6 separate regions of the Homo sapiens genome follow, and regions 1, 2, 3, 5 and 6 are each linked to region 4. The links come from fine-mapping of genetic effects on gene expression. A gene starts in region 4. Each other region holds a variant in brackets. All regions are shown on one strand. Distances are between the middles of the regions. Region 1 overlaps LOC105375743 (a long non-coding RNA gene). Region 2 overlaps MTSS1 (MTSS I-BAR domain containing 1). Region 3 has its middle 34 kb from the start of MTSS1. Region 4 holds the start of MTSS1 (MTSS I-BAR domain containing 1). Region 5 has its middle 35 kb from the start of MIR4662A. Region 6 has its middle 21 kb from the start of MIR4662A.

Evidence for each region. PIP is the estimated chance that this variant, and not a neighbour inherited with it, causes the effect.
Region 1: its variant is fine-mapped to the expression of MTSS1 in thyroid (GTEx, PIP 0.90).
Region 2: its variant is fine-mapped to the expression of MTSS1 in whole blood (TOPMed, PIP above 0.99). The same link has a PIP of 0.9 or more in CD4 T cells, T cells, Th1/17 cells, activated CD8 T cells, activated naive CD4 T cells and blood mononuclear cells.
Region 3: its variant is fine-mapped to the expression of MTSS1 in pancreas (GTEx, PIP above 0.99).
Region 5: its variant is fine-mapped to the expression of MTSS1 in whole blood (INTERVAL, PIP 0.92).
Region 6: its variant is fine-mapped to the expression of MTSS1 in monocytes (TOPMed, PIP 0.99).

Annotation. Positions count from the first base shown.
Region 1 is chr8:124,845,707-124,850,911 of GRCh38, reverse strand. The region is part of intron 1 of LOC105375743 (a long non-coding RNA gene); the gene reads left to right. Among named protein-coding and RNA genes, the nearest start is that of MIR4662B, 26 kb to the right of the region's middle. RefSeq lists a silencer at 2,511-2,805 and enhancers at 2,511-2,805, 1,950-3,149. The variant C/G (reference allele first, on the strand shown) is at 2,758.
Region 2 is chr8:124,561,878-124,567,082 of GRCh38, reverse strand. MTSS1 (MTSS I-BAR domain containing 1) reads left to right here. Exons shown (of 14, transcript NM_014751.6): 8 at 1-12; 9 at 1,324-1,421; 10 at 4,091-4,301. Among named protein-coding and RNA genes, the nearest start is that of NDUFB9, 25 kb to the right of the region's middle. RefSeq lists a silencer at 5,018-5,107. The variant G/A (reference allele first, on the strand shown) is at 2,214.
Region 3 is chr8:124,759,608-124,764,812 of GRCh38, reverse strand. No RefSeq gene overlaps it. Among named protein-coding and RNA genes, the nearest start is that of MTSS1, 34 kb to the right of the region's middle. The variant G/A (reference allele first, on the strand shown) is at 2,516.
Region 4 is chr8:124,725,363-124,730,567 of GRCh38, reverse strand. MTSS1 (MTSS I-BAR domain containing 1) reads left to right here and starts at 2,095. Exons shown (of 14, transcript NM_014751.6): 1 at 2,095-2,684. The coding sequence starts at 2,613. It overlaps LOC105375741 (a long non-coding RNA gene), which reads right to left and starts at 2,029. Exons shown (of 3, transcript XR_002956670.2): 1 at 502-2,029.
Region 5 is chr8:124,784,240-124,789,444 of GRCh38, reverse strand. No RefSeq gene overlaps it. Among named protein-coding and RNA genes, the nearest start is that of MIR4662A, 35 kb to the left of the region's middle. The variant G/C (reference allele first, on the strand shown) is at 2,245.
Region 6 is chr8:124,797,889-124,803,093 of GRCh38, reverse strand. No RefSeq gene overlaps it. Among named protein-coding and RNA genes, the nearest start is that of MIR4662A, 21 kb to the left of the region's middle. RefSeq lists enhancers at 3,764-4,263, 4,264-4,765. The variant G/A (reference allele first, on the strand shown) is at 2,032.

The DNA of each region.
Region 1 (5,205 bases), 120 kb before region 4:
CAGTTTCCCTCACTGTAAAAAGGAGATTAATATTGTTGTTGTAGAAGGAATGGGTTATTGCAAGAGTGAGTTGTTATAAAGGTGAGGCCAGTCCTCTCTTGCTCGCTCTTGTAATCCTCTGCCTTCCACTGTGGAATAATGCAGCAAGAAGGCCCTCACCAGATGCCAGCACCTTGATCTTGGACTTCCCAGCTTCCAGAACTGTGAGAAATAAATTGCTTTTCTTTATAAAGCAATTTTATTTACCTATTTTATCAAAGAAATATCTGTACACTCATGTGTACAGATTATTCACAATAGCCAAAATTATTCCCAATAACTAAAATGTGGCAACAATCCAAGTGTTCATTGACAGATGAACAGATAAGCAAAACTGGATATATACATACATGGAATATTGTTCAACCTTAAAAAGGAAGGATCCTTTATAGAGGTTCATACACACACACACAAGGAAATTCCAGTATATGCTACAACATAGAAGAACCTTGAGGATATTATGCTAATTGAAATAAAGCAGTCACAAAAAGACAAATACTATATGATATAGCTGGAGTGGTCAACTTCACAAAGACAGAAAGCAAAATGGTGGGTGCCAGAGACTGGAGGGAGGGGGGAATAGGGCGTTATTGTTTAAAGTGCGTAGAATTTCAGTTTGGAAAGAGGAAGAATTCTGTGGATGGTGTAGTGACAGTAGCACAACAATGTGACTGTACTTAATGCTCCTGAACTGGACATTTTGAAATGGTTAAAATGGTAAATTACATGTATTTTTATATATAATATATATATAAGGTACATGATATTTATATTTAACAAAACAATTTGTTTTAAAAGAAAACAATACCTGTTTTAAAGAGCTATGAGAATGAAAAGAGACTGTGTTCATCTAGCACTTAGCACAGATCTGGCATGCAAGAAGTACTGAATGGGCGGAAGCAATACTTGTTATCCCTACCATTGGTCACCGCTGTGCGTTGCATCTGCCGTGGGTATGTGGGAGACTTCAGGCCTCACATCTATCACAGGTGGGGAGTTTCTGTTGTCTTGCCTGCTTCACTGGGTGGTTGTGATGAGCAAAGGAGGTCTTGTGTTGAGATGCTTCATAACCTTTTTTTTTTTTTAAAGTGAGGCTGGGCACAGTGGCTCACGTCGGTAATCGCAGCACTTTGGGAGGCAAAGATGAGAGGATTGCTTAAGTCCAAGAGTTTGAAACCAGTCTGGGCAACATAGTGAGACCCTGTCTTTACAAAAGAAATTAAAAAATAAGCCAGGCTTGGTGGTGCAATACACGTGGCCCCAGCTACACAGGAGGCTGAGGCAGGAGGATCGCTTGAGCCCAGAAAGTTGAAGTAGCAATGAGTTGTGTTCCTGCCACTGCACTCTGGGTGGGGTGACAGAATGAGACTCTCAAAAGAAAAAAAAAGTGGAGGAATGATTGATCAAGGTGTTATTAACACATTTCTTAGCTAGCTGAACTTCTTGTCTGTCTTCTCTTTGCACTTCGTATTTATCCTATCACTGCACTTGTCACCTTCCCCGGTGGTAACTTCCTCAGGCCTCTCTCCCCCTCACCTGTCATGAAATCCTCAGGCAGGATCTTCCTCATTTCCATATTCCAGCACCCAGGCCAGCATCTGCACCCACACAGAAGAAGCTTCATTTATTTTTGCTGATCTCAGCTGTTCTGGAGACTTGAAACAACTTTTTAGATGATTTTAACCAGAAGAACTTCTGAGGACTGAAGGCAAGAGGTTTGGTTCTGCTTTACAGATTGGCGTCCCCCCCAGGTGCAACTGACCCAGTAAATGTGTAATTGTCTATACCTGCGCAAATGCAGGCTCCTTGATTAACATGCATCGCCCTCTGGGGAAGAAAGGGAAGGGAAGGAAAGGGAAGGATAACTCAGGGAAAGTAGGAAAAACTCTCCTGGACCTCCCAGGAAAAGGTGACTTCAGGACATGGGCTGCCTGGTTGTTTTCAATGGTTTTCATTATTTAGTTTGAGCTCCTGGGGAGTAAATGTTTCTCAGGCATATTTTGGGGATCTAATTCTGGAGTCCTTGAGCTCGAAATAATGCAATAAAATACCTGCTCCGTGGAAGTGAAAATGGCTGCTTCGCAGGCTACCGAAGCTCTCTGTGCACACCCTTCACAGACAGGAGCTTCCAAGAGGTTAGGTAAGGTGTCCAAGGACTCAGAGGGAAAGTGTCAGAACCGGGACAACAGCATACAGTTCCTGGATAGGAGGGATCCCACAACCTGACTGACAGGCTGAGTGTTGCGATGAACTGAGGAACAAAGGCTGCTTCTCTGGAGCAGGCAGGCAGTTTGCATATTAAAGTACAAAGTGTACTGTAATCTCAGCTACTTGAGAGGCTGAAGCAGGAGAATTGCTTCAACCCGGGAGGTGGGGGTTGCAGTGAGCCGAGATTGCACTACTGCACTCCAGCCTGGGGGACAGACAGAGTGAGACTCCGTCTAAAAAATAAATAAATAAATAATAAAAAATACTAAGTGTATTCATCCTAGAGTTTCTGTACCTTTCATGATGGTTGAAGCAGCTAACTTTTGGACTGAACTTGCCCTCCAAACTCCAGACCAGAAATACCACCTATTTGTCATTCTTCCTTTTGACTCATACTAATTCCTCAGCATGTCCTACAGAAGGGAGTGTTGATAAGCCATGAAAAAGAGGAAGAACATATGATGAGGTAGCATGAGGGGCTTTCTTACTCACCAAATGTAAAGGAACAAG[C/G]TTACTCAGCCAGTCTTAATGATTAGCAAGGGACTTTCTCAAGGAAGAAAAGAAAATGGCCGCCACAGTGCTTTCCCCTCACAGTGCACAATTTGCCAATGAGTTCAAAGTGTCTCCGTAACTTCATGCCATTTCTTCTGGTAAGGTTTGGGGGCAGTCAGGGAGGGGTGGTAATTAGTGTTAGATGGGCATACCGAAATAAGGCATAGAGAGGATAACTGGTTTGTTCAGGGGCACACGGCAAACCCATGAAGTCAAACTCAAGTGGCGTCAGGGAGCGCTCAGGCTTCTTCCTGCCTCTAGAAGATTTCACAAGGCCAGGAAGCCAGCAGCCCTAGGGTCAAGTGAAGGGGAGGCAGCTCTGGGACCCACCCAAGAGCAGTTTCTGGTCAGGCATTCCTGGCAACTTGTGGTACCTCGGTCCACCCACGCCTCCTCCACGATGAAAGCTGATAGGCAAGGCCAACGGTCCTCTGGGGCCAGGCAGTGCCTCCGGCCTGGTTTAGGGGGCACTGAGAGGTCTCCCTTCTAAAAATATCTCCCTCCCTTTTCCTGCTGTGGAAGCTGAAGTGGTCACATGCAAGGCTTACTCCCGTGGTTTGAAGCATTATAGTCCCAGTAGATCTGATTTAAAAAATAAATGCCATTATGAGTGGACCAAACAAGTATTACCACACCGTAACATGGGACTTGGCATTTACTTATACCTCTCTCTAAATCCAAAGAAGGATTTGAGAGTATCACACATTTATTTCTCAGATGAGCCAGCTGAGGGAAACAGACCCTGCCCTGGCAAATCCATGGGGCAGCTAGAGAAAACCTTAACTCTACCTAGGACATTTCACTCTCCTGCCCAACACACGCCAAAGCTTCCCGTTGCACCTTGAAAGGAATCCAAACCCAGGATCTTCCCAGGCTCTCCCTGACCCACTCAGGCCCTTGCCTGACTTGCCTCTTGCATTCCATACTTGTTCTCCCGTCTTGTTCTTCACACTCCCACTTCACCTCGCAAGTGCAGCTGTCCTTCCTCCCACTGGGACTGTACGAGCTGCCCCTTCTGCTGGTAAACCTCTCCCCTGTGCTCCTGGTTCCTCTCTATCCCTTAAGCCTTGACTTGAAATGCCACCGTTTTTGTGGCCTCCCTGACCGTGCCACCTAAGGAAGGGGTTCTCTCTTGTCTTTGAAAATATGCTGCTATTTTCCTCCACAGCATTTCATATAATTTGAACGTGCGTGTATGTGGGCACAGTCTATCCTCATTATTTGCAGGTTCTGTATGTGTGAATTTGTCTAATCCCTAAAATGTATTTATAACTCCAAAATCATCACTTAAACCTCAAGGTCATTTGCAGACACATGCAGAGCTGCAAAAGATTTGAGTCACCCAATGCACCCATCCCCAGCTGAGATCCAACAAGGAGACACTTTGCCTTCCTGTTTCTGCTCTCATGCTCTCAAACAAGTGTCCTTTTCATGGTCAGTTTAGTGCCAAACATTTATAAAACAATTTGGTGAAAAACATTTAGGCTGGGCATGGTGGCTCATGCCTGTAATCCCAGCACTTTGGGAGGCCAAGGCAGGTGGATCACAAGATCAGAAGTTTGAGACCAGCCTGACCAACATGATGAAAACCCATCTCTACTAAAAATATAAAAATTAGCCTGGTGTGGTGGCATGCACCTGTAGTCCCAGCTACTGGGGAGGCTGAGGCAGGAGAATCATTTGAACCTGGGAGATGGAGGTCACAGTGTGCCGAGATCACACATTGCACTCCAGCCTGGGCAACAGAGAGAGAGAGTTAAAAAAAAAAGAAAGAAAGAAACAAAGAAGAGAAAAACATATAGAAAATTTTTTTTTTCAGCTCACTGCAGCCTCCGCCTGCCGGGTTCAAGAGATTCTCTCATCTCAGCCTCCCGAATAGTTGGGACCACAGGGATGTGCCACCACATCTGGCTGATTTTTGTGTTTTTAGTAGAGATGGGGTTTCACCATGTTGGCCAGGCTGGTCTCAAACTCCTGACCTCAAGGGATCCACCCACCTCAGCCTCCCAAAGTGCTGGGGGATTACAGGCATGAGCCACTGTGCCTGGCCCACATTTTCAAGATTTTTGTTGATGGTGTCACTGCTTGTTTCAAATGGCCCCAAGCATAGTGCTTAAGTGCTGCCTAGCATTCATGAGCATGAGAAGGCTGTGTTGTGCCTCACAGAGGAAATGTGAGTATTAGGTCATATTCACTCAAGCATCTTGTATTGCTATTGGTATTGAATTCAATGTCAATGGATCAACAATGTGTATTAAGTAAGGTGTCTTTAAACAAGAACACACATAAAACAAGGCTACGTATTGATTGATGGAACTAGAGGCTCACAGGAACCTCAACCTATATTTACTGTAGGATCAATGGTTCAGTATTCACTAATTCAGTGCTTGTAGTGACTTTATAAAA
Region 2 (5,205 bases), 160 kb after region 4:
TCAAGTGAACAGGTAGGCTTCAGGGGTTAAGCACTTACAGGATCAAACCAAAGAGGTAAAAGCTCAAGGCCCTGAGTGTTCCTGTGGCATGTGTCACGTCTTAAATTGTAGTCATATTCACCACGTCCTTCATGATGTAATATATGAAATCACCACAGCGAGCTGTTACATAGAACCTATTGTGTGTCAGGCACTGTCCCAAGCTCTTTACATAGCCTGACTTCCTCCATTCATCTTCATGATTATGCTTGTTTTATAGAGAATGATGCAGAGGCACTGAGAGATGGAGTCACTTAGCCAGGTTCAGCTAGCTAGCAGGTAGTGGAACTGATATTTGAACCAAGTTGGTCAGGTTCCAGATCCCATGCACTTAATTGCTGTGTTCATCTGCCCTCTAGAAGTCAACCCTCCTAAGAACACGTCGCTGGTGTGTTTTGATTGACACTGTCAACCATTCTCCATTTCTCCCATTCTAATTGAGCAATGCATGGAGAGCTCTCTCATCTTATGAAAAAGATGACATTTTTATGCTTTATTCATTTAATTCACATCACACGCACACTATGGGAAGAGACATATTTGGGGGAACTGATGAATCACATGCTGGCTTTTGTGCTTGGTAACAATCTTTTCGTCTCCTTGGAGAGCTGGCTCAGAGGGCAAATTTGGGAGCTCATGTTTTCTATTCTATCAAATTATATTTATTAGACCAGAGCATGCATGCATTCACTTGACAAATAAACATTTACTGAGTGCTTCTTATGTGAATGAAAGGTGGACCTTATACTCATGTGGTCCTTTGTCAAGCAACGGAGACAGATATAGAAATAATGGTGAAAGAATTGGCTTGTTCTTGATTCTGTCAGGCTTTAAAATTTCTAGTGCTGGTCAAATAGGGCAGAAATGACCACTGAATATCAAGTGGTTAAAATGCGCTACCAACAAGTCTGGGAACCATGATTAACTTTATGGCATTACAAGAGGAAAATCCTGTAAATTCTAGCCTTGGGTATAAATGGCTGTTATAAATTATTAATTGGTCACTGTATTTCTCCCTCTCTCGACTGATATTTCATGATTTTCCTTTTCCCTTCCTTTCCTTCTCCCTATTAATTATAGTTTTACTTTCTCAGTAAAAGGATTATGATATTGATGGATTTGGTACTGTGGCTCTTCAATTTAAAAAAAATTTTTTTAACATGTTTTGCTTTCATTCCCACCCCCACGATGGCAGCGTTTTGATGCTTTGGTGGATGTTAAGCTTTGATGGCTAACGCTTCCCCTCTCAGCACCTCATTCACCCAGCTGGCTCTGTCCCCTTAGGTGATTCTGGACTTGAAAGGTTCTGATTACAGCTGGTCGTATCAGACGCCACCCTCTTCCCCCAGCACCACCATGTCCAGAAAGTCCAGTGTCTGCAGGTGAGTGAAGCCGGGGTCCACTCTTGCTTTCAGGACGGGTCATTTTTCTTTATGCTAATGTGAGCAATGGAGCCAGTCCTTATCTCTTAGAATGGCTCATTCTCAAACAGGAAATGGGATGATGAGCTGAAAGAATGGTAATAATTTTGGTCTTGCTCTTTAGTCTCTGGATTAATTTTGGATCAGAAAGAAAACCCCATTAGCCCTTGACTTGTGGATGTAGCTTATTCTCTCTCACTTGTATGTTGTAGGGATTTTCCTATTCTATGAGATCACATTTGATTTTCCTGTTTAGCAGAGTGAAAACCTTCTAAGGCCTAAAAAATGGTGAACCTGGGTTGATTTTTACACAGGCTGATCTCACTGTTGCCAGAACAAACGAAGGAAGTAACAATGGCTTATGCCCTCATTTCACCCCATATTTTTGTTTCAGGGTTTCATAAAGTAAATAGAGTTCTTGCTCTGTCAGTCACTGCTACTACTACCACCACTACCACGACCACACCTGTATTAATTAGTACTGTTCCCTATTGGAACAAAATCTGTTGGAATAGTTCTGCCATCTGCAAAACTGTTGTCTAGCAATTTTCTGTTAGAAGTCAGTTCTTGGCTTGCCGAGTAGGAAAGTTTCTTTTCCTCTCCTTGAAAGATGGAAGCATGATGTACCATCTATCTCTCTTGGTATAGTAGTCCTGTTACTCTTTTAATTTAACTTTCAAAGCCAAATGAGTTTCCACTTCCTGTGTATTAGCACTGAGAGTAGAGGGCAGGATGTATCTGCTCAATCTGTCT[G/A]TGGTGATGTTTTGGTGCACGCTGATGCCTATTTCCTTTCACTGCGGAGCTTGTACACTACACACTTAGCAGGAAGTTCAGACCTAAGACGCTGCATCCTGGACATTCTGCCCCCTGAAGATATTGGTTTGTTTCTTATCTTCTGTCGACTGTGTGTGTGTGTGTGTGTGTGTGTGTGAGTGAAAGAGAGACCTTTTTATTGTTGCCAAGAAAAATCTCTCATTAGTGTAAAACAAAGTTGCGTGGCTGTTTTTTTCTTCCTTATAATTTTAGTTTGAGTAGAAAACCATGTTGCACTGACATCTGCAACTCTGAGGCTGCCGGGGTGGAGTTGCTGTGAGCTTTACTGTCGGTCCCCAACTGCCGCCTTCTGGCTGACTGGAGGGGAAAGTCAAAAATCATGATATTTATTCCTCACTGCAGCGATTTCCTCCAGCACGCTCCCCTATGTCTGTCTGAACATTTGCACCAAGTAATTCTAGTGTAGAACAGTCACGCGGCCCTTGAGTACCTTATTAGCTGCCAGATTTTGCAAGCCAGAGTCTCTTGCAGGCTTAGGAGCAGAAACCATGACTTTTCCTATCCCAGCCCTAGTTATTTACTTCATCCCTGCTGCTGCCTCTACAACTGCTCTTTTTATTTCAGCTCCGTTTGTTTGGACCATGGGAGTCTGTTTTCTGCTTTTTATGATCTAAGTTACTATACAGAGTGTGGAGCATTTTTTTTTTTTTTTTTTTTTTGAGATCGGGTCTCGTTCTGTTGTCCAGGTGGAGTGCAGTGGCATAATCTCAGCTCGCTGCAACTTCTGCCTCCTGGGTTCAAGTGATTCTCCTGCCTTGGCCTCCCAAGTAGCTGCGATTATAGGTGCCTGCCACCATGCCTGGCTAAGTTTTGTATTTTTATCAGAGGCGGGGTTTCACCGTATTGGCCAGGCTAGTCTTGAACTCCTGACTTCAGGTGATCCACCCGCTTTGGCCTTCTGAAGTGTTGGGATTACAGGCGTAAGCCACCGCACCTGGCCAGGAGCATGTTTCTTTTGAGTGGAGATGGAAGGCAGACAGAAATCCAGAGCGGGTGTGTCATTATTTGACATCCTGTTTACTGTGCCATTTCAAGAGCAAACAGCTGAGCATTGATTGCCCTTAGTCGCTGAAAGCTGCCTGCCTCTTGCCAAGTGTGCTATTGTGCCAGACCCACAGATATTTTAACACAGAAACAGCTGGGGTCAGAGTAAAAACATTAATTAAAGCATCACTTTGTTAAAAGGTAAAACATATGCACACCAACATAGTGAGTTGATTTGCTGATGTTCTTGACAGCGGGCTTGACCAGACTCAGCTAGGATGAAATCACCTCAGCAAATCCATCGGCAGTGCTTAGCTGGGTTGGCCTTGGTCATGTGGACCCAGATGGTCCATCCAAGAACATTCCAGTCATGCTGAAGCCCCAGTGGACTTTTGCTGCAGGCTCATGGTTCCTGCAGGCAGATTAACCCTGTCCCTTTTCTTGCTACTGACATCAGCTCCCCTCGTTTTGGTGGTAGGCGAAGCAGCAGAGTTGGGCGCACTTGACGTTTTAGAACCCCAGACCTCCCTCGTAAGAATGCCACATGGTTACCATCGGAGACCTGAGTCCTGGCAGCTGTATTTCCCCCTGGGTCACCTGGAAAAGCATTTTGTTGACTACCTTCATGATTTGGTGTTTTGAAAACGTGTTTTGTGGTTTGCACTGCATCTCCAGGGCAGAGAGCTAATTGCATTATGTTGTGCTTCTCTCTCTTCTGCCTCATCTGTTCCCCTCCTTCCTCCTTCCTCTTACCACTGCTCCCCTTTCTTTACCTTCCGTGCCCACCCCTCACCCCTGCTTGTCCTCCACAGCAGCCTGAACAGTGTCAACAGCAGTGACTCCCGGTCCAGCGGCTCCCACTCGCATTCCCCCAGCTCACATTACCGCTACCGCAGCTCCAACCTGGCCCAGCAGGCTCCTGTGAGGCTGTCCAGCGTGTCCTCCCATGACTCAGGATTCATATCCCAGGATGCCTTCCAGTCCAAGTCACCATCCCCCATGCCGCCAGAGGCCCCCAACCAGGTAAGGGTGCCCTTGGCTCCAGGAGCAGCTGTCACACCTGGTGTCCTGACCACTGTCAGTGGCCAGAACCAAAGAAGCACCTTGGCTTAGACAATCCCCTGCCCACTGACTTGAGAAACCTCTGGTTTAATTTCTCATCTTTAGATGTATTGTTCCCCTAAAGGGAGAGGTGCTATAAGTGGGTTTGAAGCCTGTCTCCATGGTGGTAATGGTTGCATTACCACATCGATTTGGGGAGCTCTCACGTAAGTAGATGGATTGAAAGAGGTTTGACCACTCTCAGGCGTCCCTGTAAGTGCCCAGCTTGGCATAATTAAATGCTATAATTAAAGGGCATTGCACAATGGGGACACCTCCTCCCCCACATCTCAGGTTCTCCCTGAATGGCTGAGATTCTATGGTTGAATAGCGCTTCCGATACCATCCCTTGGCGCTCTCAGGTTCCTTTTATCAATCTGTGTTGAGAATGAGAATGAATCATCAGAGCTTCTGCACATAATTCTGTTGGCACTTAGATTCTGGAAGGGAAGGTGTGGCAGAATCTCTTCAACTACAGCTGGGTTTAATGGTGCTAGGCCCAGCCCAGCCCAGTGGTTCCAGCTGGAGCAGAACGCAGGAGCTGGCCAGGGCATCTGAACACTCTTCATGTGCATCATCAATGTATGTGATCCTCTCTCTGTCCTCTCTCCCTTAGTGTCATTGGGTTGGTGTCGGCCTTGAACTTGGCAAGTAGCTCTACATACAGAATGCTGGGTGCCCCACAGCCCCACCTGCTGGGAAACCCATGTCAGAGCTCTGCGTTCCTCTCCTCACAGCTCAGCGCTCCCATTAGCATTTTTCAGCCATCCTGGGGACTGTGGCCTCTGTCTGCCTTCCTTGGATACACACTCAATTTTAAACGCAC
Region 3 (5,205 bases), 34 kb before region 4:
TGAATTTATATACATATATGTTCACTACCATGTGTGCATACATATCTATATATACACACTATATTATACATGGCACAAATGAGCAATATTGCCATGTAATCAAAGAAGTTAAAAAGGGGGAATCTAAATTCTTTCCTGGTGGTGGTCTCCTTCTATCTCTGAGACTTCTGCAAACTTGGAACGTAATTCAGACTGTCTCTGAACAATTCTGTGTAATGATTCCATATAATTCAAGGATCCCGGAAACTCCCTTCTTCCCTCTGGCTTTCTTCCTTCCAGTATACTTCTCCTAACTGTCAATCCCAACTCTGCTTCTTGCTTGCCACCTCAGCATCAATTCTCACTTCTGCATGTTTTCCTCCAACTGTCCCTTCCCAAGGCTTCACATCAGCCAAGTGCCACAGATGAGAGGTCACACCGGCCAACTGGGGATCCAATGTGGCCCACGTCATGGTGGCCTACACCAGATTTTAAAATTTGGAATTGAAAAATTAGCTGGGCATGGTGGCAGGCACCTGTAATCCCAAGTACTTGGGAGGCTGAGGCAGGAGAATTGCTTGAACCCGGGAGGTTGCAGTGAGCCGAGATTGCGCCACTGTACTCCAGCCTGGGCAACCAAGCAAGACTTCACCTCAAAAAAAAAAAAAAAATTGGAATTTGTTTTCAACACTTAAAAATCAGAAAAGTTTACATTTAAAAAAAAATTAGATTTCTGGCTTCTCTTGACAAATTGAAAGATCTGGCAATACGGAGCCTATAGTACCACATGGCAATCATTGTCCAGAAGGCGTGCTGTTTGGTTCATCACGGTTCTTACCCCCTGCCTACTTCATTCTTTCATGTAACTTGACTGACCCCAAAGACATTTGCACCTGAGATCCTTGAAGGAGACAACTGTTGGCCTGTGTGAATTGAAGCCCCTGCCACTTGTGGTATTTCTGAGGATGTGGAAGATCCATGACATAGTATTTTGTGATTTAACTGATGAACAAGTGAATTTGACTCAGGTATAGACATATGAATCAAAGAACGTGAGAAATCCCAAAGAGCATAACATTTGTTCCTAGCTTTACTGAAATCTAAACAGCAAAAACTGTATATATTCAAGTTGTAGAATGTGATTTTTGAAATATGTATGTGTTAGGAATAACGCTAAAAAATTTTAAGGAAATTGAACACTTGAACAAAGGATTTTTAGCAAAGCAATTTTATTTTTGGGCAGAGGGGTGCCTCCTTGGCTAGTCGCCATGAGAGCCCACCTGAACAAAGGGCACGAGAGCCTTTATTTTTGACGGCAAGTCTTGCCCCTGCACTCTTTCCCCATTGGCTGGGGTCAGGCTGTATAATTTAAAATAATCCCAGTTGGCTAAACGTTTGAATTTTTTTAGGTAAGGTGGGCACGTAAAAGAAAGTGGAGAGGAAGGGGAAGGGGTGTGTGTAATGAGCTAGAAAGTTAGTCTTCTTTTTAAATAAGGAAAGGAACGTGAGCTGGTACTGATAATGCCTGTCCTGTGGCGTGCCTGGGCATCTAACAAATGCAAAAAGGAAAAAAAGGAGAAAAAGGAAAAAAAGGTGGGGGGGGGGGCGTTATTATAAATTAAAGAATAAAAGATTGATTAGATTATTTGAAGAGAAACCTCATCATATTCCACATATACATTGGGAAATGATTACCACTATCAAGCTATTAGGTTGGTGCAAAAGTAATTGCAGTTTTTGCCATTACTTTCCCACAACTCAGAACTTACGCAGATGAATGGAAGCCAAGGGCTGACAGGTTTCAGATTTGATGATGAGATTGTAAAGAGATTCAGCATGTAGTGGGATTTGGGTTATACCACATCAAGATCCTGCCCAACACTGAGATTTTATGGTTCTATGGTTTGGGGAACATGTTATCTTTTAGAAAGGATGGCTCTAGGACTGTTGGAAACACACTTTTATAGCCAATGTGCTTTTCAGATGCCCTTATATCCAGAGTCAACCAGGGTAAAATTATGTTCTCACCAGAGTCTTGTTTAACATCTTTCTTCTTCTCTCTTTTGTCTATTTTCCTTGCACTTCTGACACTTCTCATTGGATGGTTTGTAGGGCTCAGAGAGCCTGTGGTAATTAAAAAGGCCTGTCTCTGGGGTCAGACTCCAGATTAGCTCTAGAATTCAGCCCTTATGAACTGTGTGATCTTGGGAAAGTGATACGACTTCTCTGGGCCTCGATTCCCTCATCTGTATTATTTGGAGACAATAGTGGTACCTACCTCATGAAGTTGTTGAGAATATTAAGCAATACATCTAAAATAACTATTAGAGGTTCTGCCATGAAGAAAAGGCTCAAAAATATCATCAACAGCAAGACCATTATTATTAAAAGAGTCAGCTCCAGAAGTATTTGTCAAAAGTGACTTGGAAACACTGTGTTCCCTGAGGAAAGGGCCCACATTCTTGTTTATTTTCTAAATTCTTGCCCCTAGCAGAGTTCCTGGTACATGTGGATGCTTAATAAATGTCTGTAAATA[G/A]GTAAGTGAAAGAATAAATGAGTGGATGAATCAATAGAGGTTGAAGATTAAGAGATATTTCTGTTGTAAGGTTCTACAGAGGTTCCAAAAGAAGACAAGGAAGGTGGAAGAGGAGGAAAAACACTCACCGAGTGTTGCGGGGAAAACAACAGCTGACGAGGTTAGTCAAAGAGTGATTCATGGGCCAAATAAGCCCAAAAGGAGAAGTTCCCGGTACCACCCCACAACTTGGTGGTGGAAACTTTGAGAATTAGTCAAGAGGGATGGCCCCAAGGGACCGTTTTGTACTGATTTGGGTTTCAGGGTTGAGAGAACACGATGGAAGTTTTCAGAGTGAGGCACTTGGGTAATCTATTTTGGAGGAATTATCTGGAGAAAAGAAAATGAGAACTGCCGGTAACCTTTGTGTGATTGCGTTAAGGTAGGAAGGAGGTGATTCCAGGACATTCTCATAGCCTGGTTTTTCAGGCCCAGTGCGCCGTGGTGTCCCATGCGAATTACAGTTGGAAATTTAACAGTGTGATGACGTGTGAGATAGACTAGCAAAGAAGCAAAGTGTTCATAGTGAAGAGACTGTGTCCTACATGGGAGGGGACTTTTTAAGCAAACTTTTTAAGATATAAGATTGATAAAGGAAAGTACATAAATCAGAAACGTACAATCCATGAATTTTCAAAACATGGAATGTCTACATTGCCAGCATCATGATAGAGAAGTGAGTTCTAAACATAACACACACTGCGCCCATCTGGGATATTTGGCAGAAAAGCAGATTTCTTGGCCCCACTGCGAGAGACTGTGATTCAGTAGATCCAGCGTTTGACCCAGGAATCTGCATTTCTGTCTACACTGCTAGATTCCAGTAAGGGTGGTCCACTGGGTGAGAACAAGCTTCAGAGTCATGCAAACTTGCACTTGGAATCCTACCTTCTCCTTGAGTGAGTAGCTTGACCTTCTCACAAAGACAGTAGGGGCAATAGTACTTCCTCATAGGTTTGCTTTAAGGATTAAATTAGAAAATGCATATAAATCAATAAAAACTGTTGGGCATGGTGTTGACCACACAGTAAGCACTCAGTGAACATAGAAAAGCATAAACGCCCACAAAAAAGACGAGGCTCGGTCCCCAGGTCTTTGTGCCCAGCACCTAGTCCAGAGCTCATCACACAAGGCTAAGGGAGTATGGTGTGAGAGTTAGCAACACGGGTGATATGGTTTGGCTCTGGGTCCCCACCCAAATCTCACCTTGAATTGTATAATCCCCACGTGTTGTGGGAGGGACCAGGTAGGAGGTAACAGAATCATGGAGGCGGGTTCTTCCCATGCTGTTCACATGATAGTGAATAAGTCTCAAGAGATCTGATGGTTTTATAAAGGGGAGTTCCCCTACACATGCCCTCTTGCCTGCTGCCATGTAAGACGTTCGTTTCACCTTCCACCATGATTGTGAGGCCTCCCCAGCCATGTGGAACTGTAAGTCAATTAAACCTCTCTCCTTTATACATTACCCAGCCTCGAGTATGTCTTCATTAGTTGCATGAGAATGGACTAATACAACAGGTTAGCAGTCAGATACCCTGGGGTGTGAGTTCGAGTCCTGGCTTTGCCACTTACTAGTTATGTAATCTTGGGCAAGTTACTTAACAGCTCTGACTCAGTTTCCTTATCTGTAAAATGAGAATAATAACACCTACTTCATAGGGTGACTGTGGGGATGAAATGAGAGAATCAGGAAAGACCTGAGCCCTGAGCCCTGAGCCCTGAGCCCATGGCCTGGTCCCTGCAAAGAGCTCAATAAAAGTTGGCAACTCTATGATTTACAGCTGAAGCTGAGAATGTTCCACCCCTGGGCAATAAAAAGGTACTCCTCAGAGGCATTCTGAGGGGAAACAGGCCCCTCTCTCTGATAACATTAGCTAAATGCTTCTTTGAAAGAGCAGTGTAATAAAAAGGCTAAGAGTTGGATGTTTATTACTAGGCCAAAGTGCTACTACCGTGATTATGGGCCAGGTGGGACTGCCAGTGTTCAGGTGTTTATACCTTTCAAGGGGTTGCAGAGATGGGTTGATAGTGAACTTTTTGCTCTGCAATGGCAAACTGTTATTTAACTTCTGCCAAACGCAGAGGATAAAATTTGAATTGTTGAAGGGGGTTGGGGGAATCAGGCTATTCTCAGCTACATTTTTTGGTGCTGACATCGGGGTTGGGAATTTCCACAAATCCAGCCTTGACTTTGAAGACTGGTTTTCAGGGGTCATTCCAAAGTAATTTATTTCTGGAGAACTAAATTATACTGGTCTTGGCTGGACATGGTGGCTCACACCTGTAATCCCAGCACTTTGAGAGGACCAGGCCGGTGGATCGCCTGAGGTCAGGAGTTCTAGATCAGCCTGGCCAACATGGTGAAACCCCGTCTCTACTAAAAATACAAAAATCAGCTGGGCATGGTGGCAGGTGCCTGTAATCGCAGCTACTCGGGAGGCTGAGGCAAGAGAATGGCTTGACCCCAGCAGGCAGAGATTGCAGTGAGTCGAGATCATGCCACTGCCCTCCAGCCTGGGTGACAGTGTGAGACCCTGTCTCAAAATAAATAAATAAATAAAAATAAATTATACTGGTCAATTTCCCAAGAGATGGAGTATAGACACCATTTCAGATTTCAGTTTGCCGTCTCCTGTGTAAGGTATCTG
Region 4 (5,205 bases):
GGTGTCACTCCCACTTTCCTGCATCTGGGAACACTTTTCCAGCCTCCCTTTCAAGGAGTTCTCATGAGAGACAAGGGCCTGGTGGTCAGGCCCAGGGAAAAAGGCCACAAGAGAGGTATGCTTTGGCAAACATTGCTAAAGTTGGGGTATTTGGGGCATTGAAATTTAAGCATGTGGCAGGAAAGCTAGACCAAGTGTCCACTGGGCTAAGGCCCCTTATCCCAGGAGTTCAGGAGGCTGGGTAAAAGAGAGACCTGGGGCATGGAAGTCAGAAAACCAGGGTTGGATTCCTTCCAACAGTGCAACAAGGACCAGAATGATAATTTCCTTCAAGTAGACATAATACGTATAAAATGCCCAGAATGCACACAGTAGACCCTCAGCAATGTGCCTGGGACAGCACACCAATGTTACAGAAGTGAAATGGGGCCAGGGCTGGACCTGAGCCTTGGCCTCATCCCTGCTTCTTCTGTTGATAAGATTTATCGAATGATTACTTACGAGATGCCAGGTACCACTTGAAGTGCTTTCATCGATCAGCTCATGTAATGTTCAGAACAGCCCTATCAGGTAGAAGCCATCATTATCCCCATTTACAGATGGATGAGGAAACTGAGGCCCAGAAAGGTTAAGTAACATACCTAAAGGCATACAGTTAGTAGGTTGTGAACTGGAGTTTGAATCCAGGCAATCTGGCTCTACAAGCAGTCATCTTGATAGTTAGAATACCAATAGTATTAAAATCACAATAATGATTGGCAGCAAACGATGTGTCAAGCACCCGTTATTGGCAAGGTGAAGATGAGTCGGATGCATTCGAACGCCCTTGGGGACAGGATCCAGCAGGGGTGATCAAGAGATCAGTTACTTCCTGAAGGTAACACCCTTCCGGGTGATTTCGGGGAGACGGATGGGGAAGGTGGGTTGCAGTTAAGAGTTGGGCAGAGTGATCCAGGGGAACATTATCTTCTGCAGCTGTGCTGTGTAACTCCATGCATCCCTTTGATCCATAAAGTTTTCAAAGCCAGACCTTTTCCCATTACGGAGTGAATCTGACACAAGTGTACAGAATTTTGCACTTGGTTTCTTTTGGCCCCACTCCCCCCAGTCTTTTCTTTTGTTATGTTTTGTGCTTCAAATGGTTAGCTCAAGGGTTAAAGGAACTGTCCGGAGTTAGGTGCCTATGTCTTAATATCTTTTAAAAGTTGCTCATTTGATTCTCCTCCCTCTGGCCCATTTGGCGTTCATCTGAATGAGGGCTCCTGGTTATGCAGATAGGCAGTGGAGCTGTGAAAATGGACCACTAGGCCCCAAATCAACCTGGGCACATTTGCGCTCTGCAGGTTCAACCTCCCAGGAGGGCTCCCTGCGGTTATACCAACGCTGGCTGCTCTCAGTGGGCCTGAAAACCATCAACCGTCCAAGTCATAGGCAATCAGCAATCTCGATAGACTGATGGATCGTGGACAGAAGCTCTAACGCTGTTTCCATTCATTTAGCAACAGCAAATCAATCCACTTTCCCAGCATCCTGCAACTTTATCGAACTCGGCATCCCATTGCAGGATACGCCCCCGAACTCTCCTTAATTATATATTTCGCTATTTGCAATCAGGACTCGGCGATGCAGTCCTGACATCAGAGAATGGGCGTCTTCTCAGAAGGCCGCAGTAGCGGCAGCAGCTTTCCCGCCCTACTGAGCGCTCACTACAAGCGGGCTCTGGGCTAGGCGCGCCACCCGTGCAAGTCCCCGGGGAGCGGCGGTGCACCCTCCGTCCCGCGCGCTCGCAGCCATTGTAGGGGTGGGCGCTCGCCAGGCAGGGTGCCGACACGCCCTCTCCGCGCTGCGACGGGCGGCCGGGGGAGGAGAGGGTGCGCTGTGCGCACCGGAGGGAGAGGCTCCGGCCCAGCGCCGCCTGCCCGCCAGCAGACCAGCAGGCTCCTCTTTGCGGCGGGTGCCCCACGCGCCTCTCGGGCGCGCGCTCCCAGCCCCGCCCGCGTGCGGCGGCCGCACGGCCGCGAGAGCGCGCCTCCGCTTGGCGGGCACGGCCGCGAGCGCGCGTGCGCCCCTCCGAACGTCCCCGGGAGCCCAGCCAGAGCGAGCGCCGGGGCCGGGCGCGCAGGAGTGAAAAGGAGGCGGCGGCCGCAGCTGCGAGCAACAGATCCGGACGCCGCGAGCTGACCCGCTCTGCTGTTGGGCGATTTTTTTTTAATTGCAGAAAAATTTATTAAATTGGAAAATCTTGCGTTTTTCAATGGCGCTGGCCCCGGGTCAGCGGGCGATTTTCTCTGCATCAAGATGGGCTTTGCCGTTTCCGTAGTGGGCACCAGTGGTGGCCTGATTGTCAGTCTTCTCCCGGCATTTTTAAGGCCAGGAGCCGAGCGCTGCTTGTAGGCGAATACCCTACAGAGCGGTTTGGCTTTTTAAATTACTGTTATTATTTTGGGCAGAGAACAGTCGGTCTGGTGCACCCCGTCCTCGCTGCAGAAGAGGCTGCGAGTCCGAGGTGGGTCTCTCGGAAGGTGAAATTCCTTCTGGGGTGAGCGAGCCCCGGCCCCGCGCGCAGTCCAGCGGCCCCGCGTGTGTGCCCTCGCCCTGCCGGAGCCGGGAAAATGGAGGCTGTGATTGAGAAGGAATGCAGCGCGCTCGGAGGCCTCTTCCAGACCATCATCAGCGACATGAAGGTAGGACGCCGGGGGTGCGGCTGCGGCGCCGGCCGCCGCGCTCTGACCTCGCCGCCGCGCTTCGCCTCCACCCCGGGCCGGGCACCCGGCCCTTCCCTGCAGTGTGGCCACCGGCCACCTGCGGGAGCTCCCGGCCGGAGTGTCACCTGCTCACCCGGGGCGCTGCTCCGGGCTCTGCGGGGTCACTGGGCGGGTGGCTTCTCTGGGGGGTGTCTGCTGTCCCACGCCATCTCCCCCGCTCATTGTCCCAGGGGGCGGCACCATTTCTTTCCCTCGGGGGCTCAAGGCACTGGCTGCAAGTTTTCCCATTGTCTGTCCCTGAAGTAAGTGTCTGGGACCCGCGGGGGCTGGATGCCCGGGAGGACACCTGATTCCTCCGGGCACGGGGTGGGGGCGCCTGGCGCGGTGGTGGGGAGGAAGTGGGGGCTCTGCCCGCTCGCAGGAAGGAGTCCCCTAGCCTAGGAGACTGAGAGGGAAAGCCAGTCCCTCCTTGGCTGTCAGGTCTACTTGGAGTGGGGTATCTGAGCAAATTAGTTATTAATTGGGCCGTTCCGAAGCTGGTAAAGGTGTGCGTGCCCTCTCTTAGCCCTCCCGCGGGGCGCGGGGCCGAAGTTCCCGGGCAGCCTTGCAGGGGCCCCGCCTTCTCCCAGCTGAGCCTAAAGGCAAGATTGGGGCCCCCGAAATAACTGTATCCTGCCCTCCCAGACCCAAACGGACACACACTCTAGGTTTTCTCTTGGAAGGGTTGTGAAGATGGTGTGTGTGTGCGCGCGTGCATGTGTGTGTGCGCGCGCGCGCGTGGGGGCGGGGAACAACACCCTGGTTTTTTCCTGCAAAGGGTGGGACTGGGGATAACCTGATCCTCGGATGTGGATTTTCTGGTGCCTAGAGATAGACCAGGGCCCCGTGTTATTCATCCAGAGGAAATAAAACCAGCCGCGCGAGCTGGCTGGAGGTGGGAATTGGGAGCGGTGGGGGAAATTATTTTTTTAATGTGTATTTAGGGAGCTTCTCTTTGGCTCTGGCCCAGCCCCAGTTTGCCTCAACAGATCCAGATCCGGGGAGGTGGTGTTTAATTAAAAGCTCGCTTCCAAAACGAGTGGGCAGGTTTGGAAAGCTGTGCACCGAGTGGGTGTGGACAGCCCCTCTTCAGCCGCTGCCTGGGCGCCTGGAGGAGCTTTTGTCTGATGAAGTGTAAGGTTTAGAGAGGCTTCGTGCCTCGGAGATGGTCTTTGGGAAGGAATGCTCAGCTGTCATGGCCTGCTTCCACCTTTCAGAACCAACTGCCACCTCACCCAGGGTGAACTTTATCAAGCTGCCTCTGTCCTGGTTTTGTCCATTTTGAAATCTTTCTACAGCTCTCGTGCCTTTTGTCACAAATTGTCCTTAGCATAGCATAATCTGCAGCCAGACTCTGCTTGCCCAGGAATGCTTATAGTCCAGGCACTTGGAATTAGATGGATTATTCCCTGTTGAAAGACAGCCCCTTTCATTCTGTTGCCCCCAGTGCACACTGACGGATCTGTCCACTGTAGTCCTGGAGTGATCACATCTGGAGTTTTTTCTCTTTGTTCTTTAATCCAGAATCCAGGCTCGGTTCTTCCCATTCACTGTTTGAATCGAAAGCCGTTCAGAAGGTGACCTGCCCAAAGGGTGGGCTGTCCTGCTTTCCACCTGCCATCCTGTGGCTGCGTGGCACTATGCCCTGGCTGGGGACTCACGGGTGCCAAGGTGGTGTTTTTTCCCCTGCATGGTTCCAGTTAAAAATAAAGACATTTTCTTTAATGCCCAGTCACGGCGGAATCTAGAGTTTGTGTATCCTGACTTCTTTCGGTTTGAGTTTAGTAGGTTTGTTCAGTATCCTATGGGAAATCATTTATTTTAAAGTTTTTTTTTTTTGGTTTGTTTGTTTTGGCAGTAAAATTTTAAAAGCAAGGTGGAATGGAAGACTAAAACATGCCTTGGGTTCTGCAGAGTTTTAGACTTTTGGAGACTCGAGAGATGAAGAGAGAGGGAATGTCTGATTTCCAAGATTGTTTATGCATAAGACAATTCTTGAATATTTTCTTGGACTTTGCTTCTTAAAAGACTTCATCATGGATTAGATGACAGTGACATTTTAAATGGAAATTAAAAATTTTTAAATTTGAACAGATCTGATAAGCAGTATATAGTGTGCAGATGCATGAAGTCACCAGCAACAAAAGTCAGTTTTTAATATCTGAAATCAACTGACTTTCTAATGACCTGCTTATCCTCTTGTTCTCTTCTTTAAACTCCCATAATGGGTTTATAATGCCTTTGGTCTCCTATCTGTTTGCTCTGAGGGAAAAGCGTAAATGTCGGAAACCCATTTGGAATGCCATCTTGATAAAAATTTTTAGGTTATTTTCTCAGAAGTGATGTTAGGCTGGGTGAGAAAAGGATAAGGAAAATGGTTTTATTAGTAGCATTTGATTCTTCAAAATGTACAGCAGCACAGGAAGGGAGTCAATTTCCTCTTTGGAGAAAAAAAGAAAAC
Region 5 (5,205 bases), 59 kb before region 4:
AAACAGGATGGGATCTGGAGGACAGTAATATTCTATTCATTAAATACATGCATACACACACATACACATGACAGAATATTCTATATCTTACAAGGGTACTGACACGGTTTGGCCGTGTCCCCACCCAAATCTCATCTTGAATTGCAGCTCCCATGATTCCTACGTGTTGTGGGAGGTACCTGGTGGGAGGTAATTGAATCATGGGGGCGGGTTTTTCCCATGCTGTTCTTGGGATAGTGAATAAGTCTCAGGAGATCTGGTAGTTTTATAAAGGGGAGTTTCCATGCACACACCCTCTTGCCTGCCACCATGAAAGGCATGTCTTGCTTTCCCTTTCCTTCCACCGTGATTGTGAGCCCTCCCCAGCCATGTGGAACTGTGAGTCCATTAAACCTCTTTTCTTTATACATTACCCAGTCTCGGGTATGTCTTTATTAGCTGTGTGAGAACAGACAAATACAGGAATATACATATAGTCAAGTGTTGCTTAACAACGGGGATCTGCTCTGAGAAATGCATTATTAGGCAATTTCATCCTTGTGTGAACACCATAGTGTGTACTTACACAAACCTAGATTGTCTAGCCTACTATACACCTAGGCTATATAGTCTAGCCTATTGGTCCCAGGTTACAAATCTGTACAGCAGTTTACTGTACTGAATAACATAGACAATTGTAACACAATGGTAACTATTGTGTATCTAACCACAGAAAAGCTACAGTAAAAATACAGTATAAAAATAACAAAAAATGGTACACCTACGTAGGGCACTTACCATGAATGGAGCAGGCAAGACTGGAAGCTGCTCTGGGTGAGTCAGCAAGTGAGTGGTGAATGAATGTGAAGGTCTAGGACATTACTGTCCACTACTGTAGACTTTTTGACTCTTGTATTAACACTTAGCTTAAAACACAAACACATTGAACAGCTGTACAAAAATATTTCCTTTCTTTATATTTTTATTTTATAAGATTTTCCCTACTTCTAAGAATTGTTTTACTTTTTAAAACTTTTTGTTAAAGACTAAGAGACAAACACACATGTTAGCCTAGACCTACGTGGGGTCAGAACCATCTATATCACTGTCTTCCGCCCCCACGACTTGTCCCACTGGAAGGGCTTCAGGGACAATAACACGCATGGAGCTGTCATTTATAATAACAACACCTTCTTCAGGACACCTCCTGAAGAACCTGTCTGAAGATGTTTTACCATTACCTTTTTTGTATAAGAAGAAGGAGTGCTCTCTAAAATAACAATAATAAGTATAGTAAATACACGAACCAGTAACATAGTTGTTTACTATCATGATCAAGTATTCTGTACTGCACATGATTGTATTGCTCTGTTGTATACCACTGGCAGCACAGTAGGTTTGTTTACAGCAGCATCACTACGCACAAGTAATGTCTTGCACTATGTACTGTGGCTACGTCACTAGGTGGACTTTTTCAGCTCCATCGTAATCTAATGGGACCACCGTGGCACACGGGTCCGTTGTTGACCCAGCACGTCATTTTGCAGTGCATGACAGCACTCCAGGTTGCTGTTTCTGACCACTGCACAGCACCACCCACTGTGATCCTTCCTGTTACTTCTCCAGCCCCTGGTGAAGAGCTGCCTCCAACTTCCTGCGCTCACCTGCAATACTACAGTAAGTTGAAATTTTTATACTTTTTAACTCAAAGTTTTTTAGTTCTTTTCCAGCTCTCAGTTCTGAATTTATGCCAAACACAGTAATTTTATGAGTAAACCATGTTGCACGGGCATCCCTCAAGTCCATGTTCCTCGGTTAAATAATGCGACCCTAAAAATCATACAAAGGTGCATTTAAAATGTGTCTTTCCTGACTTTTCTAAAACAGTCACAAATTGTGTAATAAAACAAATGACAAGAATCACATTGGCTACCATTTAGAGAGCACTTTACATATGCTGAGTTCTCTCTTAAGCCGGGTACAAGCTGTAGTTCATTCAACAGTACCTGGAGCCAGCTTGGACTGGCTTGCAAGAGCCGATTATTAAATTTTCAAGAATTTTGCAAGCCAGTCACTAAACACAGCAATTATTAAAAATCAAATTATATATACTCACAATTAAACACGTTGGATTATAAACAAATATAATAGAAACTCATCACTTCCTAATTATTATTATTATTTTTTTTTGAGACAGAATTTCGCTCTTGTTGACCAGGCTGGAGTGCAATGGCACGATCTCAGCTCACCGCATTCTCCGCCTCC[G/C]GGGTTCAAGTGATTCTCCTGCCTCCTGAGTAGCTGGGATTACAGGTGTGCGTCACCACACCCAGCTAATTTTGTATTTTTAGTAGAGATGGGGTTTCTCCATGTTGGTCAGGCTGGTCTTGAACTCCTGACCTCAGGTGATCCGCCTGCCTGAGCCTCCCAAAGTGCTGGGATTACAGGCATGAGCCACTGCGCCCGGCAGTTCCTAATTATTTTACTACCCTCCACTGTTATCCAGGCTCAGATAATGTCCACTGTATCTGCACGGTGCAAGCAAGATATAATGGTTCCCATATCTAATTCCACATGCAATAGTGTTACATTGGTTCCTTGAAATCTGCCTTAGTGGGAGAATTTGCACCACAGAAATCAGCAAATACTATGAATCAGGAGTCCTCTGTCCTCAGAGCTGGTTGTTAAACACTGACCAGCATACCACTGTGCTCAATCCTCACAACAGCCCTATGAGATGGGTCCTTTTTTATTTTACAGATGAAAAAGTGAGGCCTCTGGAATTGGACATGTAAGTGGAGATGCCCAAAGCGTACTTGGGTGTATTAGTCCGATAAGGACTATTAAAAGAATTTAAAAATGGTCATTGGATTTGATAATTATGTAGTTAGTAGTGGCTTCAGGGAAGTGATGGGGACAAAGAAGCCAGATTACAGTAAGTTCAGAGTGAACAGGAGCAAAGGAGCACAAACAGTGAATATGGACTGACATTCAGGACACGTGGGTCATTCAGGAGACAGATGATAACTAGGGGGGTTCACATAGGATCAAGTTTCCGCCCTTCTAACACATCAAATTAACCATTGCAAAGTGTTCAATTCAGTGGCGTTTAGTACATTCACAGTGTTGTGCAACCACCACCTCTTCCATCACCCCCGACCCAAATAACCTCCGTACCCGTTAAGCAGTCAGGTCTCCATTTCCCCCTCCCCCCAGCTCCTGGTAACCACCAATTTTCTTTCTGTTTCTATGGATGAACATATCTCAACATCTAAGACAGGACCTGCCACATAGATCCTCCGTAAAAATTTGTTGAGCTAAACAGACACTACCTATAAGTCACACCCGCATCCTTGCAGATCACCCTAGCTCAACCACTGCAACTTACAAATTCAGGAGGTAGTTGTTCATGTTGCCTCATCCCTTTCAGGGCAAGGACCGTGTTTTACACACCTTGCCCTCTCCACAGCAAATGGCACAGTGCCTCGTACATACTAGGTACCCCATAAGCATTATCAAAGGCTCTGGAATTATTTTGCATCTCTCCAAATCATATGTTTTTTCAGGTGAGTTTTATGTTTAATCCCTTTTTCTTTTGATTTTAAAATTAAAACATACTCATCGTAGAAAATTTATTTTAAAACATCGAGATATCTGAAGAAGTTCAAAATCACTTATAATACCTCAATCCACATAAAGGTTGCTATGGGTTTCCTCCATGTCATTTTCCAAATGCAGGATCTTGGGGAATTTAAAAGGGGAGTGCAGGTGTGCACATGGGTATTTAAATCCCACTGCTCCATGGTTCTCCTGCTAGTTAATTAACTATTAGCACTACTGCTTTGGCTAAATCTCACATTTTTACAAACAGTGGAGATTAGCAGGGAAGCCCCTTTGAGTTCTGAAAAGTAACCCTTCTATCACCTCCATGTTCTCATATTAACAGGAAAGCAAGCAGAGCGCCTTATAGATGCACCAGAGAGTCTACGTCTACAAAGAACAAGGAGCTGAGAACCTACCATAAAAAACTTCCATCAAAAGGAATATGTATCTTGCTTCTTGGAAAGGGAAGTTTACTTTTCTGGGGCAGGGCTTAAGGAAGTGTCCCAGCAAGACACTTGCTGATGACTGAGCTCCGGTCAACACTGCTAGGAAGTGTCTTGGGAGTGGTGGGAAAGAACATCAGCTCGGGGTGGGGAGCGCTGAGGGAGTTGCCTAAGAGAGGACATAGAAGGGGCAGAGTCAGCACTACAAATACAAGAAGTTTACTTTTGGTGCAAATGACAGTTCCTATTTATTGAAAGCCTGATGTGGAACATGTTGAGATTAGAGCAGGTTTCTAAAGGATACCCATCACCACCTTCTTGTAGTCCCCACCCTGTTCCAAACCATTTAAAATAAGAGAGGAGTCTGGCAGGTGGAGAACAAAATGGGAGAGACAGCATTGGAGAGCTCAGGTGAGGTTTAAGGCAACAACAGGCTTCTGCTGACCAGAATCAGCCTGACTTGCACCTGGTACTGGGCAGTAGTGGAAAAATGCTGACCTTCCCATGTAGTGTGCCTCCCCAGAAACACATAACGTATGGAGGAGCCGGGCAGAATGTGTGCTTCTGGTGGCAGCTGAATTCCAAAGGAAACGTAGATAGGAGGCAGGTGTACCTATGCCCATTTCCTACTCCCAAATTTGCCAAGGAGGTAATTCCTCCTTGCGGAATCCTGAGCACAGGACCAGAAAGGAGCCAGGAGTGTTACATGCATCGATGTCCCTCCACATGGAAACACACAGCAAGGGGAAAGGAGGTTCCACATAAGAGGTACTGTCCTAGGAGTGTTAAGTGTTTTATCTCTAAAATACTTCAGAACAACCTGTAAAGAGGATATTCAGATCTCCATTTTAAGATGTAGAAACTAACGAGATCCTGTAATTTGCAACAACATGGATGGAACTGGAAGTTATTAAGGGGATAAGTCAGGCACAGAAAGACAAACTTCACATATTCTCACTTGTTTGCGAGAGCTAACAATTATAACATTTGAACTCATGGAGATAGAGACTAGAAGGGTGGCTACCAGAGGCTGAGAAGGGTAGAGGGGGAAATGCTAGCGGGAAGTGGAGATGGTTACTAGGTACAGAAAAATAGCTAGAAAGCATGAATAAGGGCCAGACACAATGGCTCATGCCTGTAATCCCAACATTTTAGGAGGCCAAGGCAGGAGGATTGCTTGAGC
Region 6 (5,205 bases), 73 kb before region 4:
CTGTCCATTTCTCTCTTCATGTGTTATGTGGTTCCAGAGGAGGTGGAGAAGGGAAGAGGCCCTGGTGAGTAATCACAGGATGACAGAATATGACACAACATGGAAATTTGCTTTCTGTGTCCCTGTTCAAGCCAACTCTTGGAAACACATGCTCTTTCAAACCTGACAGCCACATCGAACTTCCATCTGAAGCACCTGCCATGTCAAGAAAACCATCAAAGAGATAAGATAATAAATATTAACATTTGAAACCAGTGTAGTCAATGTAACAAACCCAGAGAGCCAATTAGTTTGATTGTTGGTGAATCAAAAAGAGGACCTGGCTAGGAGAAAAGTTGAGGCTTGAGCTTTGGTGGGCAGGATGGGGAGGACAGCTTAAGAATTGATCCGGGCACCAACAAGAGCATAAAATCATCCCAAAGAAAGGGTATGAGAGCTATTTTCAAATGGCAGAAATATTCTCATGTGGAAGAGGAAATCAAGTAATTTGAGGGCAACTCTACTGAAGTGGAAGTTACAAGGAGGTTGATTTTGACTCAAAATAACAAGACTTGCTGGCAATTAAAGTGATCACTTTTAAAAACCTATTAGGCACCAGGAACTGAACTGGATGTTTTGCAAGTATCACCTAATTTAACTCTTGCCAGAGCTGTATAAGACACACATTGTTAGGCCTCAATTTTCAGATGAGGCAATAGAAACTTGAAGACGTTAGGGTGAATGCTCAAGATGGCAAGTAGAGATGACATTTAAATTCGAGTCTGCCTGACTCCAAAGGCTGCCACTGTGGCTGTGCATTTTATGCATTGCACAGAGACATTTGGGCTGCTTTTGCCAGAAGGAAGCATAATTTATTCTTTTTAGAAAGATGCTTTCCTTTAGCCAAACCATGCAGTGGGGTTACATCTACCTTGAAAAAGCACCTTTTTTTGTTATTGTTATTTACACAAAAACCCCATGTTCGATAACTGTCTCTGGGTTTACACTCCTTCTGATAGAAAGAATTCCAGCTGTGGAGTGAACTGCCACATACGATGAGAACAGTTCAACCCCAGAAAGATTTTATAGACTTGGGAAGATAACTGCCTCTTATCCTTATTATAATACAGTTATTTGTGTCATTCTCCAACCTAGTATTCTTTAATGCTTTGTGTCTTTCCAAGGCCCTGCATGATTGACCCTTACTTACCCCCCTCCATTCTTCTAGAGCACTTACTTTTGCCATATAGGACTTCTCTGTTTCTGCTTCAGAGACTGTATTTATAAGTTCCTTTATTTCCTGTCTTCCAAACAGACAGAGTTATATCCCCTGAATAACTCTTACTGATCCTTCAGGTCTGAGCTCTTAAATATATTTCTTCAGAGATGCCTTTGCTGACTTGCTGGTCCAGGTTGAGTACCCCATGGATGGGTCAGGCTCCAGGCAGGACTATAGAAACTACACTAGGTATTTCAGCCAGAAGGAATTTAATACAGGGGGGTGGTTACAGAAGTATTGCAGGGTTGAAAGAGCAAAGAGATGTGTAGCTGAGCCACAATAGGTAAATTACCAGAACCTTCCAGTAATACACATAGCTCCATTTTTTTCTGTTTTTACTTTTTTAAAACTTCTTTTCAGTTTTTATTTTAGATTTGGGGGTATAGGTGCAGGTTTGTTATAATGGTATATTGTGTGATACTGAGGTTTGGGGGTACCATTAATCCTTTCATTCAGGTAGTGAGCATGGTACCCATGGTACCCATCTATCTTAGAGATAGGTTTTACCTCCCATCTATCTTAGAGATAGATTTTATTATTATTATCCTCATTCTACAGATGAGGCAACCAAGGCCCAGAGAAGTTAAATTGACTTGCCTAAGTTCATATGGCCAGTTATGAAGTAGAGTACCCAGGATCTGGACACAGGCTGACCATGGGGCCACAGGCTACACTCTTAGCCACCACACAACCCTGCCCCCTTTGCTCATGCCTCTTTGAGCCCTGGCTTTTGCATCTATCAAATGGAGGTGATGATACATTTTTTTGTAAGG[G/A]TGATTTGCAGAGCTGTAACTAGGCCTCCATTTGTGAGAATTTCCAGTCCTGCTTCCACTTCGTTACCTTTAGTGGAAGTCATCCTATAAAATGCAAATACTGAAGCTGTGGGCCCTTGATCCTAATGTGTTTGTGTAAATTCGTGTGTCTTAGGAGTCTATTCTTCTTCCACCAAGGGAGGGATGGAGGAGAGCACAAGACAAGAGGGTGCAGGTTTCCTGTGGCTGTTGTAACAAAGCACCACTAACTGAATGGCTTAAAACGACAGAAATGTATTCTCTCACTGTTCTGGAGGTTGGGGTCTGGAATCAAGGTTTCGGCAGGGCCATGCTCTCTCCAAAGGCTCTAGAGAACAATTTTTCCTTGTCTCTTCTTTGCCTTTAATGGTTGATGTCAATGTATGGCATTCCTTGGTTTGTGGCGTAGAACTCTAATCTCTGCCTCTGTCTTCATGTGACCACTTTCCACTGTGTGTTTGTGTCTAAATTTCTCTCTTCTTGTAAAGATGCCAGTTATTGGATTATGGTTCATCTTTTTTTTTTTTTTTGAGATGGAGTTTTGCTCTTGTTGCCCAGGCTGGAGCACAATGGCGCGATTTTGGCTTACCGCAAACTCCGCCTCCCGAGTTCAAGTGATTCTCCTGCCTCAGCCTCCCAAGTAGCTGGGACTACCAGCATGCACCACCATGCCCGGCTAATTTTGTATTTTCAGTAGAGACGGGGTTTCTCCATGTTGGTCAGGCTGGTCTCAAACTCCCAACCTCAGGTGATCCTCCCGCCTCAGCCTCCCAAAGTGCTGGGATTACAGGCATAAGCCACTGCACCCAGCCTGGATTATGGTTCATCTTAATCCAGTATGACCTCACGTTAACTGAGTTACATCTGCAGAGATCCTATTTCCAGATAAGGTCAAATGCTGAGGTTCCAGGTGAACATGAATTTTTGGGGCACACTGTTCAATCCAGTACAGAGGGGAAAGGTGACAACAGATGGAGAAGCAGGGAAGGAGGGTGCTGGGAAGGGAAGGGAAGAGGGTGCTCCAGGAAGGGGAAACTCTCCTCTCCATGGTTATGTTCAGACAGCTGCCTCTGGGCCTGGGTAGCATTCTAGTTTTGTAGGCATTTCACCGATCTGTATGTCCATCTTTTTAGCCATAAAACAACAGTGTTGGTCTTTAAGGCCATGTCCACCATGAAGGCTCTCATTTCCTAGGAGAGGAAGCAACCAGAATTGGGCAGCATAAAGCAAAATTGTCTTCATAGCCATCTGGAAGACAACCTGCCAACAAAATCCCATCACGACAGGCCTTCCATTCTAGATACTCTGCAATCAGGAAACAGCTCCTCCAACACCACGCCAGGACTTTCAGTGGCTCATATGATGGGCAGTGAGTGGGAGCTGTAGTTTTGGGTCCAGGTGAGATCACAGCTGATGGCCTTCCAGAAGCCAGCCATGCAGAGCTCCAGAAGGAACAGGTAGAATCACAAAGAGGTTGAGACTTGGCCTGAGGAGGCAGGGTAAGAAAGAACAGCATCAGTGAGCTTGAGTAAGGAGGGCATTTGGACACATCTGCAAGATTCCAAGCAGGTTAAATGTTGGATCTCCCATCAAGGGGCTTTAGGTGCTCAAAGGAATAGGATGGTATTAGAAGACTGGTTTGCTGAAAAAGTACCAGCCTTTGTACCAAGATTTTATGTTATCTCATTTAACCCTCAAAACATGTAATTATAGAGTAAATACTATTCTCTCTATTTGAAAATTGTGAAAACTGAGTTTCAGGGAATGACTGGCGTGGGGGTGCACTGTTAGTAAATAGCAGAGCCAGGAATTCAAACTCGAGTCAGTTTCATTCCCAGCCCTGATCAGAGTTGAGTTGGGTGTGAAGATTTGTTTGGGACTCAGGGCTTTGTGTTTTGTTTTTGGCATTGGGCTCCCTCCTTGCAGCCCCCAGTGCACACGTGTCTGCAGGCCTCTCTGCCTCTGCTCTCGGGGCTACGGGGCCCTCTGTGTGAGGACAGTCAGTTATTTGTCCAGGAGCCAAGGGCAGAGATCAAGGGTTCGGAGTGGTTTTACTTCCTGAGTAGGGAGGCGGCCTTGCTCTGTGGAATCCATCCTTTCGAGGAGGATGAATTTAGCTGCCCTCCCTAGTTGGTGGTGAGGGAGGCGGGCAGGGTCCTGTCAGACAGAGGATGTAGGCTTAGCTCCAAAGGGCTTTTGTCTGAGGCCGGGCCTCAGGCCAGTGACATTCTTTGGTGGAGGCTGCCAGGCCACCACTGAGAGAGGCACCTGTGGGACAGGGAGAGAAAGAGAGTGAGAGGGCTATCTTTCTTCCAGAGAAGAGGGAACCTGGAGGGTGGAATCTGCTGTTTGGGGGCCCCCAGGGTGCTAAGGCCACACCAGCAGGCACTTCAGGCTTGAGAAGACATGCCAAGGCCCAGGCTACTCAGAGATGCGGGCTATTAACTTTCCAGCTTCTGTGTTGTCTAATAAAAATCCCACAAGATGAAAGAATTGTGCTCCTTCTTGGACTTGTTTCCTATAGACATCCTAAGATCACAGAACTTTCCAATGGAAGGGGCATTGGCAGTGTCTGGTTATAACTCATGCACACCAAGTATGTCTCTATTTGTCATGCATGCTGTTGGTGCCCCATCCAGATCTCCTGTGCAGATGGGTGCACCCATGCCTGAATGCTGTGAATGATGCTCACAGCTGCCCCTTTCTCTGGAGAATTGCCCTCAGTCATCAGGAGACATCCTCCTGGGAGGTTACACACTCCCGTCCGTCCCAACCACTTGGAGCCAATGAGTAACAGAGGGGCCTCAAGGAGGCAGCGAGCCTGTGGAGAATCCCCACCCCAGAGCCCCCTGGGGGTCTGGCTGAGACTGGCCTCTGACTGAGACCACATCCTTCCTTAGGACTTGCTCTCACTCTCTTTCTTCTGAAAGCCCTTCTTTGATAAGTTTCTTGTGCAAAGGTGCCCATATTAGGCTCTACTTCTAGAAAACCTGACCTCAGACTCCCTTTTTTCAGTAATTCACTCTAGTGAGCAATTATTGAGCATTTCCCATGTTCTAGATATGGTTGTATGTGCAGAGAACACAGCAGTGAACCAAATAAACTTACTTTTCCCTCGGTGGGCTTATGGGATGGTGGGAGAAGACAAATACTAAA